Homo sapiens: one gene and its partners. The protein of the gene in region 3 purifies or fractionates together with the protein of the main gene of each other region. This does not show direct contact. Each region holds a gene or a part of one and is shown on either strand. Other genes may lie near its edges. The genes, in order: PACSIN1, KRABD3 and ABL2.

Region 1 (4,129 bases), on a different chromosome or scaffold from region 3:
TACTCTGTGCCAGGCCATGGGGCCACCGGAAACAGCACACAGACTCTGCCCCCACAGACCCCACAGCCCAGCAGGGAGAGGACACTGCATGATGGGAGGGTTCCCAGGGGAGGCAGCCAGGCTGTGGGGAGGGGATCATGGGTGGGGTTCCCAGCCCAAGCTGGGGAAGCTTCTGGAGGAAAAAGGAGTCTCAGTGGACTCCCGAGGGTGAGAGATTTGGGTGGGAAGGAAGAGGGAGAGGAGGAGACAGGAACAGCCTGTGCAAAGGCCTGCAGGTGACAGAAGCCCCACTTGCTTGAGGAACTGAAAGTAGCTCAGGGCAGCCAGGGGGCAGAGGGAGGGCAAGAAGGGAGAGTCAGCCTGGGTGTGGGAATGGTGGCAGAGCCACGTTAGGGAGACTGCATGGCTGTCAAATAGCAATGCGAGCCATTGTGGAATGAATGAATGATTGAATGACTGAATGTCAACTCTGGAAAATAGCTGGCAACCTGAGGGAGGGGGTTGAGTCCCTTCTTGGGCTTTCCCTCTATTCCCCAGGACCAAAGAGCCACCCAAACCAGACAGTTCTCTTTAGGCCCCTCCTAAGCCTGGAAATCTTGATGTCCTTCATAGACACAGGCCTGTGGCTAAGCCAGAACCCTTGTTGGCAGCCTCTTCCTCTGAAGTGGGTTTGCTCCTCCACACACTAGGGTCATGAGACCCCTGAGAGCTTGCTATGAAGACCTTAGAGGCTGAGGAAGGCCTGGCTTGGGCCTTCCCAGCTTCCCTGATGTTGACCTGGATTTTCCCAAGGGCTGGGACAGAGGCAGAGACTCTGGTCTAAAGTTGGCACCCCGGGAAGAAAGTGCCAACCCAGCGGCCTGAGGAGAGCCAGACCTTCACATCAGGCCTTCCCTCAAGCCAGGACCAGGCCTGGACACTCAAACCAGGGGCCCATAAGACCCTCTGGAGCCAGCAGGTTGCAACACTATCTCCAAAAGGCATAGCTGCCCATCAACTCCAGGCTTAGGAAGGGCCTAGCCGGGCATGATGGCTCAGGCCTGTAATCCTAGCACTTTGAGAGGCCAAGGTGGGCAGATCACCTGAGGTCAGGAGTTCGAGACCAGCCTGACCAACATGGAGAAACCCCGTCTCTACTAAAAATATAAAATTAGCCGGGTGTGGTGGTGCATGCCTGTAATTCCAGCTACTCAGGAGGCTGAGGCAGGAGAATCGCTTGAACCCGGGAGGCAGAGGTTGCGGTGAGCTGAGATCGTGCCATTGCACTCCAGCCTGGGCAACAAGAGCGAAACTCTCTCTCAAAAAAAAAAAAAAAAAAAAAAGGAAGGGCCTACTAAAGAGAACCACCTGGTTTGAGTGGAGTGGCTCTTTGGTCCTGGGGAATAGAGAGAAAGCCCAAGAAGGGGCTCGACCCCCTCCCTCAGGTTGCCAGCTATTTCCCAGAGTTTACATTCACTCATTCAATAAGTCATGCATTCCACAAGATATTTTCTTGGTGCCAAACCCTGCTTTGGTGCAGGGGCAATGACAGAGATGAATCAGATTCCCAGCCTGAAGGTACTTCTGGTCTAGAAGGAGATGAACAAGACAAATAACCCAGCCACAAGGCAGTCCAAGAACATAGGGCAGGGGGCAAGGATCTCACCTGGGGTATCAGGGAAGCTGCTGGAGGGTGATGATTTGGACTTGTGATAGAAAGGCCAGGATGGAGGATGGAAGCAAAATCACTGACAGACAGTCCTGTTTGCACCCCAGCTGTGCCAGGGGCTGGGGCAATGTGGGTTATTTATGGTTGTGCCTAGAAATAAGCGGCCATATGTGTCACTGCCTATGTGGTGCAGACCTGGGCTGTTGTGGGTAGGGGCAGCTGGGGCTTGAAGCTGGGTCTGGCCAAGCTCCCGGGTTTGCCACCATGTCTCCTACACCCTGATGACCCTTTAACCTTTTCATAGCCTCTTGTAAGGTGAAAATAAGGGGCAGAGGCAGCTCCAACAGGCAGCAAGTGGCCTGGGGCTTGCAGGGGAGGGCAGTGCCCAGCAGCCCATGGCTTCTGTATCTGCGGGGCCTTTTAGCATTATCGCCTCCTTCTTGCCTCCTCCCCCCTCCCCGCTCCCATCCCAGCTGTGGGGGAAGGGGTAGGGGACAGAAGGAAATACCTTTAACCATAAGCCAGACAGGCATCAGCTGCTGTGTTTCTCCCCAGCCCACTCTGATCCATAAATAGCCTATGCACCAAGCTGGCACCAGCCCACCCACCCCTTCTGGTAGCAGTCCAGAGACCCGGACCGCCCGGGCCCAGGCCCCAGCTTCCCAAGGAACCTATTTCCGGCGCTTTTCCTGGGGTAAGGGCCTCCGATGCCAGCTCGCTCCCCCAAGGGACCCAGCGCAGTGGCATCCTGGCACTGCCTGGGTGATGCCCGCGAACTCCGTCCCCTGAAGGCATCCCCGAACGCGCACCCGCTTCTCTCCAGGCAACTGCCCAACCCTGCCCGGGCTCTGGCCCAGGGAGATGTCAGTCCCGGCGCCCACTTCCAACACGCACTCCCTAACTGGACACCCGCACACACAACCCCCCCGCCCTCTATTCAAGGGCCAGACCTCCTACCTGGGGGCAGGAGCTCCGGGGACCATCGGCGGCGACTCGGGGCGAAGCGGGACGTCTGGGGCCCGGCCTCAAGCCCGGCCGACTTCCCGGGGGAGGAGGGGGCTGGCGCTGCCGCCGCCACCGCGTCGCTCTGGGATCTCGCCGGGGCTGCGGGAAGGAGGAAGGTCAGAGCTGAGGCGGAGAGGGGGGAAGGATGAGGAGGAGGCGTGCACCGAGCAGAGCAGATTAGAGAGGCATTTTTAGCGAGCCAATGGTAGCGCGGGCAGGGCGGCGCGGTGGCTGCGCAGGTGGACGCGCCGCGGCTGCCGGGGAGGCAGCAACCAGTTTGGCAGGCGCCGGGGGTGGCGGGTGGCGGGTGGCGGGTGGGGTCCGGCTCCCCGCTGCTTCAGCCGACCCCTGCCCCAGCAGTCTTGCCTGGCTCCCTCTTCTGGGGGCTGCCCGCGGCCCCGCGCGTGCCGGGAGCCCTCCGGTGCGCCCTCCTCCCCAGCCCTCCCAGCTGGCGCGCTCGGAGCCCGGGATGTTGCTCCCTGCCTCTCTCCCCATCTCCCCATCGCCTTGGCCTTTCCTCCTCTCCCGAGCCTCGGCGTCCCTTGGTGCGTGCGGGTGCCTGTGTGGTGGGTGTGTTGAAGACGTGCGTGTGAGCTGACTTGGGAGCGACACCCCCTGCACCACCGCCCCACTGATGCCCACCCCTGCCCGCAGCTTCTGCCCTGTGACCCCATGGGGCGGGATCGCTAACCCTCATGTCCTAGTTCCAGCAGGACCGGCTGTCGCCAAAGCAAACTCCAGGCCATGTCGTTGGAGCTCTCTAGGGGGCTTGGGGCCTAATAGGGGACCCTCAACGGCCTTCACTCTTCCGAACTTGAGCCCTGAATGCTGCCTGGAGCCTGGACGCTGCAGGGAGGAGCGGGGCACATACCTATTGAAGGCCTGTTCTGTATCAGGCACTGATGAGGGGCTGGGCTGCAGCAGAGGACAGAACAGACCAAAACTCTGCCATCTCATAGTTCACATGTGTGAGGGAAGATAGATACTCAATATCAGCAGCTAAGAGTGTTTTGTTTGGTTTTTGTTGTTGTTGTTTTGTTTTGTTTTGAGACGGAGTTTCGCTCTTGTTGCCCAGGCTGGAGTGCAATGGCACGATCTCGGCTCACCACAACCTCCGCCTCCCGGGTTCAAGCGATTCTCCTGCCTCAGCCTCCCGAGTAGCTGGGACTACAGGCGCGAGTCACCACACCCAACTAATTTTGTATTTTTAGTAGAGATGGGGTTTCTCCATGTTGGTCAGGCTGGTCTCGAACTCCCGCCCTCAGGTGATCTGCCCGCCTTGGCCTCCCAAAGTGCTGAGATTACAGGCGTGAACCACTGCGCCGGGCCAAGAGTGTATTTTAAAGTGGTATGCACAGAGTAGAAAAATAAAGCGGGAGCCAAGAGCGGTGGCTCACGCCTGTAATCCCAGCACTTTGGGAGGCCGAGGCGGGCGGAACACGAGGTCAGGAGATCGAGACCATCCTGGCTAAAACG
Region 2 (3,716 bases), on a different chromosome or scaffold from region 3:
CGTAGGGGCACGTGTGTGACATGGAGCCAACCCTCTCACAGTGACCATGGCCAGGTCATCCTAGCCTCAGTTTCCTCACCTATTCTCTAAAGTCCCCTCAAGCCCCAAACTTTGATCCTTCACTTCTCAATTTCCACCTCTAAAAGGTGTGTCTGCTTTTATGAAAATCCCAACTGCTTCTGTGATAAAACACTGAAAGGAAATATGCAACCTGAAGTGCATTACAGGTGAGACTTCCTACCCATCACTCAAACACTGACCCTGGAAGGCTGTTTTCCCCAAGCTGGGGCTCTGGGTCCTGGCCCGTGCAGAGGGAATGGGGGAAGCCACCAGTTCACCTGCAACTCTGGGTCTTCCATGTCCAAGCTCCAGGCCTCTGGATGCTTCACTAACCCTGGGCCTTTTCTCCAGCTGAGAAACCGGGCAGGGATCCTGAGCTGTACCTATAGAAAGAGCACAGAGACCTTGGGGCAGGGAGACGATCGTTTGGCCAGAGCCATTCTGACATACCCTAAAACAATATCAAACTCTCAACTTTTAAACAATGATTAAATGAGATAGAAGACGGAAACTTGGCCCATGAGGGAGCCTAATTCTGGTGGCAGGGCCCGCCGCGGTGCGTGTGTGTGTGGTGTTCCTGCCCTGTATGCAGGGGGCTCCGGCAGGAGGAGGCGGCTGGGGAGGCAGCTGGGAAAAAGGACTCTCATCTGCGGGTCCTGCCCCAGTGAGACTTCCAAGGGCGTGCTGGGGCATCCTGTGGTCCACACCCAGCCCACTCTGCCATTTTCCACTAGGCCCACTGCGGAGTGAAGAATGTGGTGCAGCCTGGGTCTACACAGACCAGGGCCAATGCCTGTAAATGGAGCCAGCTGCAGGAGTTGGGGAGAGCTCCCTCCCCTGACCATTTCTGGCCTCTTCCTCCTTCTCCCCTGCTTCTCCCTCCTTCTACCACTGCTTCTCCCTCCTCGTCCTCGTCCTCCAGCACTCCTGAGGGGGCCAGGACAGCAGGTACTCTCTAAACTCTCTTTTCTCCCAGGCAACTGGGACCTGTCTCCTGTCCCATCTGCTTTTTCTGCTAGGAGCAAACAGTGGGTCACAGTGAGATTGAGAAGCAAGGTGGCCTGGGGCAATAGGCAGCATTCTAGCTTTCCTAATGGGACACTCTCCAAGAAGTACCCCCAGCTGGGGAAATCTCACTTTTGAGACTTTTGTTATTGATTGCCAAGTTTTAAAAGCATACGCTATTATTGTATAAATACATCCACATCTGTCTACATGCACACGTGTATATTAGCAAGCGCAAACACCGTGTACGTGGCATCAAGTGAGTGGCTCAGACCTCCCTGCAGCTGCTCACCAGCACCCCCAGCAGCCCCGCCCTCCTTCTCGGACACAGCTCACCTTACAGGGAACTAAAGCACGGCCAATGTGCAGGACTCCCTGGCAAGAGCCAGGCAAAGCGACAGGCAGGACTCAAAGGATCCAGTCTGGACTCCTGGTCCTCTGGGGAACGCATGGGCGCCCCCTCAGGAGACCCCAGGCTCACCTGCACCGAGGCCGCTGCAGTACCTGGGCTCTGTTCTCCTGGGGTCTTCACCAGGGCTGCCGCCACTGCTGCCAGCAGGGGTCCCACCAGGACATGGGGACAGAGGGACAGGAGGCTTACAGCTGGGAAGGCGGTCCCTCTCTAACGTCACAAACAAAGCTGGCATCAGAGTGGTGACTGGCGCCCTGGCACACATCCCGCTATCCTCCCTCTCCGCACAGGCTCACCCTGGGGGAGCGGCTTCCAGAGATCAGGCTCTGGCCTCGGGTCTTCTCCTTCAGAGCCGCTGAAGCTCGAGCTGGAGCCGGGGCTGGGGCTGGGGCTGGGGCCTCCCACGCAGGCGAAGCGCAAGGGCCTTACAGGCAAGATCCCCCTCAGGGCGCTCTCCAGGCAGTGCAGCGGGGAGGGCTTGGGGGCAGACCCTGGGCAGGGGACCAGAGAGTGCTCTGTCATCAGCCTGAAGAGAGCCAGGTCTCTGCCTTAGTGTCTGGGCACACAGAACCGGTCCCCTTTTCAGCTCAGCCCACGATCAGCATGCGTTCTAGTGGACCCTAAATGGCTGCCTCTCTTGCCAGAGAAAGAGGACAAAAGTGAAGCCAGAGCCTGGCCAGGACCCCAGCAGCTTTGGAAAGTCTGCTGGGGAACTTTCTGGAAGTCTCCAGTCCTTGGAAGCCATTAGCAGTCAGGTTCTAGCCAGGCCTAGGTCTCACAGGCCAGGCGGCTTCTCCCACCAGGCAGGTGCCATCCCTGCACCCCAGTATCTCACAGGGGCCAGCAGCCCAAGGGTGGGGCTCAGTTAGGGCCCATCCTCGTCTGATGGGAGGGTCAGCAAAACCGCATTTATTCAGCAAAGGCATCCCAGCAGGCCCTGCAGCAGATCTAGGAAGGAATTCTGCTGGAAGTTAAACCAAGCAGCAGCAGTGGACGGCGGGAGCCCCCTCAAGAAGCTTCTCCACTGGAGAAACCCAATGGATGGACACAAACAATGATCTTCCCGACCCCGCTCCTTGTCAGCACTTTGTGACACTTTATCTTCTTGTTTAGCGAACCTCAGTTTCTGTTTGGCACCAGCTTCTGTCCTCTGGGGAAAGGATGAGAGATGGGGAAGAAACAGAGGGACAGAGAGGGAAGTCTATTTCCTTGTCAAACACTTTAACTGAAGTGGGGCTGTCAGTACCGAGGGCAGGTGCCAGCTCACCCTCTGGGAGCCACCTCCACACTCCTGGCCTGGTGGCCCCAGGGTCTTTGAACCCCCGCTGGTGGCAGGCGGGGACGCAGCTGGAGGTGAACACCTGTGGGCTGACCAGATGGAGGCTCCGGGTGGGCGCTTCTCCCCTACCCTGCCCGAGACGGGCTGACTCGCAGGCCTCAGCCCTCAGTCCTGTTTTAATGAGAAATCAGAAGGCCTGTCAGCCCCACGGGGCCTCGTGCTGCCACAGAAGAAGGGACAGGGAACAGTTTCTGCCATTGCTGGGCTCTCAGGCACACCAGCATCAGGTGTGGGAAACACCCATCTGTCATGTTCCAGGGAGCGCCTGAACCCTCCAGAACATCTCTATTCCCAGACCCAGCTGCGTGGACCCCTGGGCTTGGAGACTGGTGCCCAGACACCAAGGCTCGTGGGGCTGGCACGGCCGGGACAAGGACACCCAGCCACAAGGAGCCAGCTCCAGCTGGGATGGTGGAACCGCAGACAGTGGCACTAAGGTGCCAGCAGGTCTACACGTGTGTGCTGCAGACTATCTGGCTTTCTGGCCTCCAACAAGGCTCTGCCCAGGTCTGTTTCCAGAGCACCATGTTGGCTCAGGAGCAGATCTGAGCCCACAGGTGCAGCGCCTAGGGCATCCTCAGAGCAGCCCTGTCTACACCCAGGGCCCCGGCAGCCACTATTACCTTCCTTGTCTGCTGTCCAGTTCCTGGGCTCTGCTCTCCTCGGTCCCCTGTCTGCTGCTGAGGAGCAGGGCCAGGCAGGCCGCAGCACAGGCACAGGTATCTCCTTGAGACAATTCTCCAGACCCTGCAGTGGGGAGCTTCCTGGTGGGCTTCCTGTGAAGATCAAACATTCACAGATGAGGGGGACTGTAGCTCAATCTCTGCAAACTGCAGAAGCCCCCTGTCTTCTGCTGTGTCCAGGGAAGGGGGGTCACAGGGGTGCTGGGCACAGAGCACT
Region 3 (3,716 bases):
TGACTCAGCCTTCTGGGTAGCTGGGACTATAGGTGCGTGCTACCATGCCTGGCTAATTTTTAAATTTTTCTGTAGAGATGGGGTCTTGCTGTACTGGGCCAGGCTGGTCTTAAATTCCTAGGCTCAAGTGATTCTCCCACCTTGGCCTCCCAAAGTGCTGGGATTACAGACATGAGGCCCTGCATCTGGACTTTTTTTTTTTTTTTTTTTTTTGAGAGGGAGCCTTGCTCTGTCTCCCAGCCTGGAGTGCAGTGGCGCGATCTTGGCTCACTGCAACCTCCTCCTCCTGGGTTCAAGCAATTCACCTGCCTCAGCCTCCCGAGTAGCTGGGATTACAGGCGGCTGCCACCACACCTGGCTAATTTTTGTATTTTAGTAGAGATGGGGATTCACCATGTTGGTCACACTTGTCTCGAACTCCTGGCCTCAAATGATCCGCCCACCTCAGCCTCTCAAAGTGTTAGGATTACAGGCGTGAGCCACTGTGCCCGGCCTGTTTTTTTTTTGTTGTTGTTGTTATTTTAAAGGTATTTTAAATATATTCCTCTGAATATCATCTTTAAAGGATCTGACATGATTTTTGTCAAAATAAATCATAAGGTGTAACCAGTTTGTGGGTTCCTGGTGAGTTTCAGGCCAGGCGCGGTGGCTCATGCTGGTAATCCCAGTACTTTGGGAGGCCGAGGTGGGTGGATGACGAGATCAGGAGATCGAGACCATCCTGGCCAACATGGTGAAACCCTGTCTCTGCTAAAAATACAAAAATTAGCTGGGCATGGTGGCGCGCACCTATAATCCCACCTACTCAAGAGGCTGAGGCAGGAGAATCGCTTGATCCTGGGAGGCAGAGGTTGCAGTGAGCCGAGATCGTGCTACTGTACTCCACCCTGGGCAACAGGAGCAAAACCCTGTCTCAAAAAAAAAAATTAGCCAGGCATGGTGGCGGGCACCTGTAATCCCAGCTACTCAGGAGGCTGAGGCTGTAGAATCACTTGAACCTAGGAGGCGGAGGTTGCAGTGAGCTGAGATCACGCCACTGCACTCCAGCCTGAGGGACAGGGCGAAGACTCTGTCTCAAAAGAAAAAAAAGTTAAGTGTAAGCCAGTACACTGACCTCTCCATGAACTTTTCACAGTAGGAACTTTAACACTTTCCGCAGAGTATCCTGTTCTTCTAGGCTTTTCATAGAATGCGAAGTTAATGGCATGTGATGTTCCATAGCATAATCTGCTAAAAAGTGATCATCTCCTTGGAAGAAAAGCCGTGGGCTGCAATCACACATCCAAATTGACAGACATCTGAATGGATTCTATATAGAAAGAAAAGATTCGTGTCTTCTGGAATATGAATGTCCACTTTTAATAAATTCAAACAGATCCTGACATAAACATCATGGGTTTTACGTGACCCATCATTTCATGGATCCTTGGCACCAAATCTTTGGGCATTGTATAACCCAACCCACTGCAGTAGGGAGGAAACACCTTGAAAGGACACTCCTGGTATGAAATACGTTTTTTTTTTTTTTTGGTAAAATCCTCTATGGGAATAATTATCAATTAGGGGATAACCTGTGAAAAACTTCTCTGAGTGGTTTAAGTTTAAAAGATACTACACTAAATTGCCAGTATTGATGAACACATAAGTGTCTGTTGTCATGATGTAGTTGGCAATGGGGCAAAACTCAGTTACCCACCTGAATGCCATAATAGGTTGTTTTTGTTGTTTGTTTGAGACGGAGTCTTGCTCTGTCACCCAGGCTGGAGTGCAGTGGTGCGATCTTGGCTCACTGCAGCCTCCACCTCCTGGGCTCAAGCAATTCTTGTGCCTCAGCCTCCCAAGTAGCTGGGATTACAGGCACACGTCACCATGCCTGGCTAATTTTTGTATTTTCAGTACAGATGGGTTTTCACCATATTGGCCTGGCTGGTCTCAAACTCCTGGCCTCAAGTAATTCACCTGCCTTGACCTCCCAACGTGCTGGGACTACAAATGTGAGCCACTGTGCCTGGCCAGTTTTCAAGGTCAGGTTTTTGTATGTGTCTAAAAAATCTCGTTGGATTACATCACTATAAAGAAGATGTTAATCGTCCGAGGACAGTGCTAACAGTTTGTCTTCTCTTTTAGCCCGTTGGCCTACTAAGAAAAATGTGAGAACCTCATATCGCCATCAAGACTTTTTTCACCCCAAGTAACTCTAATGGCCTGTCTGGCTTTCACATCTGAGGGGTGGGAGGTCACTAGGATAACCAGAATTGGATTTTGATCAGAGCAGTTTGAATGCTCTCAAAATGTGAAGTGAAAGCCTCATCTGTAAATTGGCTCATACTTGTAAAAGTACATCCAGTCTACATATTCTGTCACATTGTAGTGGGGAAGGCTGAGAGGTACCACATCAGGAGGAGAGTCAGGAGTGGCAGCAGCAGGAGACCCCATGTGAGAGATCTCAGTGGGAAGGGCAGTCTGGAGAGCCAGGGCCATCCACAGCAGCTCAGAAGCTTGCGAACTGCAAGTTCTTCTTGATTGATTTCTTCTGAGTGAAAAGACCTTCAGTTTCACCAGTTGAACATTCAGCAGTATGTAGCTGTCAGAAATAATGCTACTGAAAACCAGACTTTCAGACTGGCTTAAAATCCTGCCATATACTGCTTATAAAACACATACCTGTAGAATTTCAGCAGAGATTAAAGCACTAGCTGAAGTTTGTTTTCTGTATTCCATGCTTTAGTCAAAACACTCAAGATTTGCTGTGAACTACTCCATAAACAGAAAAAAAGACATGGTTTGGTAATTTCTTCCTTGGTAGATTTTCCTGACAAAGTGACCATCGCCTAAACAAGGCACTGTCCTGTGCGGCACATACCCAGCTCACAAGTGGCAGGCAGCTGGTGCTCAACCTGCTTTAAACGGAAAACAAAAACCAAACAAGAAAAACCAGCATCTCCCCACCATTGTATGTTTTTATTCCTCTTTACTTCAGTCTCTTTCAAAATAGGGAATGATAATGTTTGTGTAGTTTTTAGAGCTTTTGAAGAAGACCTTTTATGTCTTTCATCTCACTTGACCTTTACAACTACTCTGAAATAGGTGAAGCAGGTATTAATCTTCCCATTTTGTAGATGAAGAGTTTAGAAAATTAAGTGACTTCTTGAGGTTACATAGCTGTTAAATGATAGAGCTGGGACTGATAGTTTTGTCTCCAAGTCTTGCCATAATGTGGAGATTTAGAGAATGTGGGTTTTAAAATCAGTTATAATTGGATATAAATCTTGCTTTGTGTCTGACATTGGTACATGGTTTATCCCTCACAACAGGTTGTTGAAATAATTAAGTGATAAAATTGTACGAGACTCTTAAGTGCCAGGCACTGTGGTGCTCAATAAATATCAGTTTTATTGTCATTATTTACCTCAAGATGATTGTGAAGATTATATGAGTTGTATGTGAAAATGTTTTGTAAACCTAAGCACTGCTATTGTTATCATTGTGATGGCATGCCAAAGTGTAGAATTGCCTTAGCATTTATATTTATTACTTCATTTTCTCTTCTTATTAAGCTACTCTTATTAGAGGACTTTCAGAAAGCAGTAAAAGGTAAGGGAATTTTGGGGATCTGAAATCACAGGAGAATCTGAAATCACTTTAGGTCTACCTTCCTTGTAAGGTAAGTGATATCCTCTCTAGACCATTTGTCTTTGTCTTAGGGACTGGGTATC

The links.
Region 1: the proteins of ABL2 (region 3) and PACSIN1 purify together in Homo sapiens (co-immunoprecipitation; one large-scale study listed by IntAct). This does not show direct contact.
Region 2: the proteins of ABL2 (region 3) and KRABD3 purify together in Homo sapiens (co-immunoprecipitation; one large-scale study listed by IntAct). This does not show direct contact.

The regions. Positions count from the first base shown.
Region 1 is NC_000006.12:34,464,747-34,468,875, reverse strand, and holds the start of PACSIN1 (protein kinase C and casein kinase substrate in neurons protein 1), read right to left. Parts: upstream 2,801-4,129; 5' UTR 2,606-2,800; intron 1-2,605. UniProt on the Homo sapiens protein: Plays a role in the reorganization of the microtubule cytoskeleton via its interaction with MAPT; this decreases microtubule stability and inhibits MAPT-induced microtubule polymerization.
Region 2 is NC_000007.14:149,728,399-149,732,114, reverse strand, and holds part of KRABD3 (protein KRBA1), read right to left. Parts: intron 3,593-3,716; coding exon 3,440-3,592; intron 2,928-3,439; coding exon 2,745-2,927; intron 2,628-2,744; coding exon of another isoform or gene 2,587-2,627; exon of another isoform or gene 2,364-2,586; intron 1,969-2,363; coding exon 1,774-1,968; intron 1,688-1,773; coding exon 1,547-1,687; exon of another isoform or gene 1,402-1,546; intron 444-1,401; coding exon 339-443; intron 1-338.
Region 3 is NC_000001.11:179,219,607-179,223,322, reverse strand, and holds part of ABL2 (tyrosine-protein kinase ABL2), read left to right. Parts: intron 1-3,716. UniProt on the Homo sapiens protein: Non-receptor tyrosine-protein kinase that plays an ABL1-overlapping role in key processes linked to cell growth and survival such as cytoskeleton remodeling in response to extracellular stimuli, cell motility and adhesion and receptor endocytosis.